Linked DNA regions of Homo sapiens: region 2 is linked to region 1. Evidence: fine-mapped expression QTL. A gene starts in region 1. The other region holds a variant in brackets. All regions are shown on one strand. Distances are from middle to middle. Region 1 holds the start of ELF1 (E74 like ETS transcription factor 1). Region 2 overlaps ELF1 (E74 like ETS transcription factor 1).

Region 1 (2,922 bases):
TCAGTCTCTATCACGTAAGAAAATACATAAACAATATCTATACTACTTTAACTGTACCAGCTTCTTAAATTTAAGAAACCAAATTCCTCTACTTCTCTTTAATAAATAAGATCTTAATTATGCCGCTTATTTGTGTGCCTCTTGATTTTTCTCTTATGGATCACCACCTTAAAAAAGTTAAAAAAAAAAATAGAAAAGTCTTCATTAGATTTTTCACACAGACCAGACTAGAAGTAAATACAGCTTTTGCTTACTCAAAGGCTGACTAAACCAGCAATATGCAAACAAAGATGATAGCAAATGGCTCAGCTGAATTGGTAAAATGTCCGCTGTGTCTTTCTTGTAAGACCGCAAAATTGAGATCTGTTAATATCAACAATCCTTACAAAAGAGTAAGAAATAATAACTGATTGCCTTTGTCTCTTCCCTTTAATCTGACAGGCCTTCAAGCACTTAGTAAGTGCATAGCAAATTCTCAAAGAACTAGCTAAATATCATTTTGGTCAACAAGAAATGATTTGGCAAGTTTTATATCCAAAAACTTTATTTTTTGGAATCACTGCATATTCCAATTTTATCTTCATAAATATGTTTCAGAAATAAAATACTACTGCACTCATCTTTACAGAGCACCTAGAACTTTAAGGCACAGTAGGATGTATACTTGCCAGCCAAAATCTCATAACTACAATGACAAGTACTTCAGGAAAAGACTGAGCAATCTTTTCATTTACAGAAGGTTTTTAATTCAAGGCAGGCAAATTTTAAGAACAGTAATACAAAAGGAAGGCCAATACTCATCACTTTTTCTTTTTACACAAAATTGAAATAACTACGTTTCCTTAGAAGACAGCTTTACTTCTAAGGTTGTTACTCAGAACAAGTTTTCAGTGTGAATTATAAAACTTCATTTTTTTCTAATAGTAAATGAATCATTCTAGTCTTTCTTCCTCTATTTAATATTCACTTTTACTTGTTATCTAAATAATCTAATATTCATTTTTACTTATTATCTAAATAACAATTCATTTAAATTTCCATTGGGTTTCCAAAATGAAACATTTAATATAATTTCATTAACTTTAAAAAACAGAGAGGGAGAAAAAAATAAATAAATAACAGTCAATGAGCAACACCTATGGCTGAGTTGTCCCAAAACTTCACCCTTAGCTAAAATGCCAAAACAAAGCCACTGCCCCTGGATATTTAACATCTATATCACACAGGAATAATACGGTTTACTTAACTGTAACTTCAACTACCCCAAAAAATACAATTAGGTTTTTTAAATTAAAATTTGACCTTAGTTTGCTTTGTGGTACTTAAAAACAAATAAACAAACAAAAAACCTCTTTTATTCTTAAATTACATAGAAAAAAAATCACAAAGACATACAAAATGCTTTAGCAAGAAGATCTAAAACTTTCCAGAATTTCAGTGCTTTGTTTCCCCCTAGCAATTAAGTTCAATCAGGCATGTGACTGACCACACACATTTTATCAGAGGGTTAAAGAACACATTCAGCCATGTTCTTCAACAGGTAAGAACCACCCTCTGTTTATCAGCTCAAGAAAAAGCCAGAAGCAAACATACAAAATTGTAACAAGTTACCTTCAAGTATTCTTTCTCTATCGTCTTTTGAGCTTGAAAATAAAAAGCAATCCGACAAGTTTTAGCTGTTAAAATGGCTCCTGTAGATTGGGGAAGTGGTGTCTGTGCTTCAGCTTATGAGTCATACATGAAACCAAGTGTTTCTAAGGGAGGCACGCCCATGTTGCTGTGGACCCAATTATTCTGCTAGGTCAAACATGCAAATCTGCAGGTAAAAACGGTATAGGAAAGTGGGGATGAAGAGGCAAGGAGCAAGATCTACCTTGATTAGACCATTACTAAGCTCATATTAATTGCCATAATTTAAAACTAACAATAAAATAGAGTAAGAACCTACAAGGGAGCAAAATTAAAAACTATATATTGTTTTAAAATATAAAAATCTCAATTTTTAAAAGTTGCTTTACTATATCAAATAAAACTGTGAAAGGAAAAAAGTATGAAAGGGGATGGAAGGGAGATAGCAAACTCTGTGGCTCTTAATGTAACAATGGACTGGTGAGTGTAATCTGGCTACTCATTAACCCTCATATGAAAGAGATATATTGCTATGTAGTCTGGAAAGGCTAGCAAACTACAAAGCCAGATGCAGATCTGTAAGTTCACTAAACAGATAAAATCCACTAGAAAATTCAAAGTTCAGTGGAAAAATAAGTGTGAATTAAACTGGTTTACAGAATTTTTAAAAACCCACACTCCAATGTTAGGAATTTAAAGTCCAACAAAGCAAAATGATTTTAAATAAACTGCAAGCTTGATAAAACCCTTTTAAAAAAGTATTGGTACGATCATAGTTCATAACTCTACTACTTCCAAATGATAGCTACAGTTTGACTTACCTTTCAAGCAAAATTTTCTACATGTATTTCAAGCCTCTTGTGCCAGGCACCCTGCTACAGCTCCACTGCAATTGTGGCAAGGCCAACCTAAGGGGACAACTGTGGCCAGTGAAGCTCTGCCTTCCAAGTCAGAATACATCTGACAAAGTGCCCAAGCCACTGAAATATTACTACACCTACTTATTCTGGCCTCTGGGTGAATACTTATTAATTTATTCTAAGAGCTTAAATTAATCAAAATGGCTTGAAAGCACTAAGTACTTCCAAAGCGCTTGAAATGATAAATGCAACTCAATAGATAGCCTTCGTCCTGGTATCTTACAAAAAGTAAATAGGATTTAGCAAGGTTTTCTCCCTTTAGTTAATTAGTTGGGAGTTTATTCTGGCTTACCAGAGGCATAGTTGAGAGCACAAGCTGTCACTGACTTAGGAACTTTACAAAATGCTGCAAAACAGCAATGATTGTGAACCA
Region 2 (2,922 bases), 36 kb before region 1:
GTAAAGTCCCAAGAAACTCTAGCCTCGTTCCAGTTCTTTTGTGTGTGTGTGTGTTGTGGGGAGGGGGGAAGGAGACTAAAATTAATCTTAGATCCTTTACTCAGTATCTCCTAGATCTTTTTTATGTACTGAAAACAGTAATTTGCACATCTTATATAAATTCACTGAAAGCCGATTTAGAAATTCTTCAGTTCAATCCCCTCATTCTGCAGATGATGAAATCTAGATCTAGAGAAGTTAAGTAACTTCCTCAGAGTCACATGCTTTGGACTGAAATGATGTATGATTATGGGACCGCTAACGTTGTCTCATCTACTTGAAGAAGTAGCCCATGATTACAAACATTAATTAACCACATACATTAAAAGGCAGTATATTCTCTAGAACTTTTCAAAGTACTTAAAAATAATTACTTAAGGCATTTAGTGTTAAGTCTCATTTTACAAAAAAACAAGCTGAATCCCAAAGGTATTACTTCCTTGTTACCATATCAAAGCTAAGGATAAGACTTATTCTTCATGAATTAACTGGTGCTTAAAACATAGTATAATATTTCCTCCAAATATTTCATCTATAAATTTTTACTTTCAATAAAGTTTCTCTCATTGTCTTTTAAAGGAAATAATTTTCTGATATGAATAGAAAAATCATAATAAAGTCATTAAAATGAAATTTTCTCTGAATCTCATACCTGTCGTTCATCCTCCATGACGTTACTAGCAAATTCAAATACTAGGTCGTTCTGTTGGACAACAGCAGCCATAATAAAGCATTCCCCTTAGATCCACATGAGAAAAATTCCAAGAAGATTCACGTATCAGGCAGCAAAATCCAGTGACTGATTTGGGTAAAAAACCCTCAGCTCTGTCTGTGGAGTAATTGTATACCCAAGTTTTCTTTAGGGAAGGTGCTTCAGTTTTCCTGGTTCATTGATATTCTAGTCAAATTGAGACAATTTTTCTGAAATTTTTCTTCTCTCAAGCTTCTTGGCCTAAAAAACAAAAGCTCAGATTAGTTATGAAAAAGCAATCACCCACTTAGGATATAATAACTGATACAGAGGGCAGTATCGCTAAAGCATTTTTTTATTATTAACGTTTTTAAATAAAATCGACACGACTAATGCACATACGCTCTTTTTTAAAAGTTACATATTTTATTTGAACAGTTTGCTCCTGCTAAGATCATCTGTCACTACTGAAAATTATGCCTCTCTCCCCCACTCTCCAGTTAAACTACTGTTAAAAGTACTCAATATTAAAAAAAAAAAAAAGGTCAAAAAACCCCAGCAATAATGAGGGTTGTAATCGCAATAAAGGATATATAAACAATTTCCTTCTTTTCACCAACTCAGCAAAGCACATACATAGAAACTGCTACCCAATGAGTAATTTCACAACGTATATATTTTCACCTTTAAGAGGATTTATATAAGGATTTAAAATCAAATACATTTAAAGTTTAGTAAGAAGTATTTTTAAATCTTTTAAAAATAAGCAGAAATTAAAGCCCACTCTTTCTGTTCTTTAAAAAGGCTTCTGATAAGTAAAATGTTTTAAAAATTACCATGCTTAAGCCTGTCTTCAGTGGCTTCTTTTTTAATGCACTGAAATGTATCCTTATCTCTAGTATAGGCTTGCAAGCAACAGGAAGGAAACAGCA[CT/C]TGACCACGTCATGGCAAATTAGAACATGCAAAGAACTGCACTTTACAATAGTAGAAAAACAGAAACGCAACTTAGTAGTGAAAACAATTTCACAGCGAAGGGACAAAGGCTTTTAAAATGTCTGCCAAAGATGTTTGCCTATTTAAAAAAAAAGTTATCAATACTAACAAAAGGAAAAAATTCTTTAGGTGTTTATCACAATCTTACTACATTTTCATCAAATGATTATGGCCTGAAAAGAAAGATACAAAAATAATCACATTAAATAACATTAGTTCTTTGAATTAGCATTTACAGTTTTATTACAAACACTTTAAAAAAGAAGTTGACTCCAAGGAAAGGATGGCCAGTAATTTCCTAATAATTTTAAAGAGACAAGTCTGGGGATGAAGCTGATCTAGTGAATCAGTTTCCCTGAAAACGTAAATCCAGCTAGTATGTGTCAGCCAAATCACTTAATCGGTTTCCTAATTTCTGTAAAGCCAAGTCCCTATGTGTCCTGGGCTTTAGGGGTCATCATGGATGACTGTGATTTTCCTAGCAAGAACTCAAAATAAAATAAGAATTAAGAATCCAATTCAGATGATATTTCTACTCACTACACTAAATTCCAACCCAGCAAATTTCCCACTCTCATCCACTCCCTTTTAACAGGAAGTTTAACTCCAACACTGGGAAAGTATTTTTAGCACATTCAGGTGGTTTTTGAGCAATGTACCATATCTAGAAGAGGGAAAAAAAAAGTGTTTTGATTTAAATTGATCACAGATAGATACATTTGGCCTTGTACTTATTATTATTTATAATACCTTTTTCCTTAAATTATTATCCAACCCAATTCCTCTGTAGTAGACCTGCCTTATGTTCCTCCACACAAACTATTCAGTCTTGCCTCTTTTCTCAACTTCTGTTATTTCCTATGCCTGCAACACACCCATCTTCTACTTGCCAGCATTCAATCCCATCTTTTCCATTCAATGCTCAAGCCCCATTTATTTCACAAAGCCTCCCAACATCTATGCCTCAAACTACAAGGACTGCTCCCTTCAAAAACACAGCAATTACTGCCCGTACAACCAATTTAGCATGAATTGTAGTACATTGTCTTACATTTGAAAACTGTGTCCCCTTAATTCAACTGAATACATGTTTGAGTACCAATTATTTGCAAGGCAATGTGCCAGGCACCAAGACAACTGAAGCAAAACCTCTTCTGGGGAAATAACCATTGTCTAAAATTTCTTCTGTACCTCCCAAA

Evidence for each region. PIP is the estimated chance that this variant, and not a neighbour inherited with it, causes the effect.
Region 2: its variant is fine-mapped to the expression of ELF1 in whole blood (INTERVAL, PIP 0.99).

What each region holds. Positions count from the first base shown.
Region 1 is chr13:41,017,617-41,020,538 of GRCh38, forward strand. It overlaps ELF1 (E74 like ETS transcription factor 1), which reads right to left and starts at 1,700. Exons shown (of 9, transcript NM_172373.4): 1 at 1,612-1,700. RefSeq lists an enhancer at 1,585-1,694.
Region 2 is chr13:40,981,292-40,984,213 of GRCh38, forward strand. It overlaps ELF1 (E74 like ETS transcription factor 1), which reads right to left. Exons shown (of 9, transcript NM_172373.4): 2 at 692-991. The coding sequence starts at 763. Among named protein-coding and RNA genes, the nearest start is that of ELF1, 37 kb to the right of the region's middle. The variant CT/C (reference allele first, on the strand shown) is at 1,663.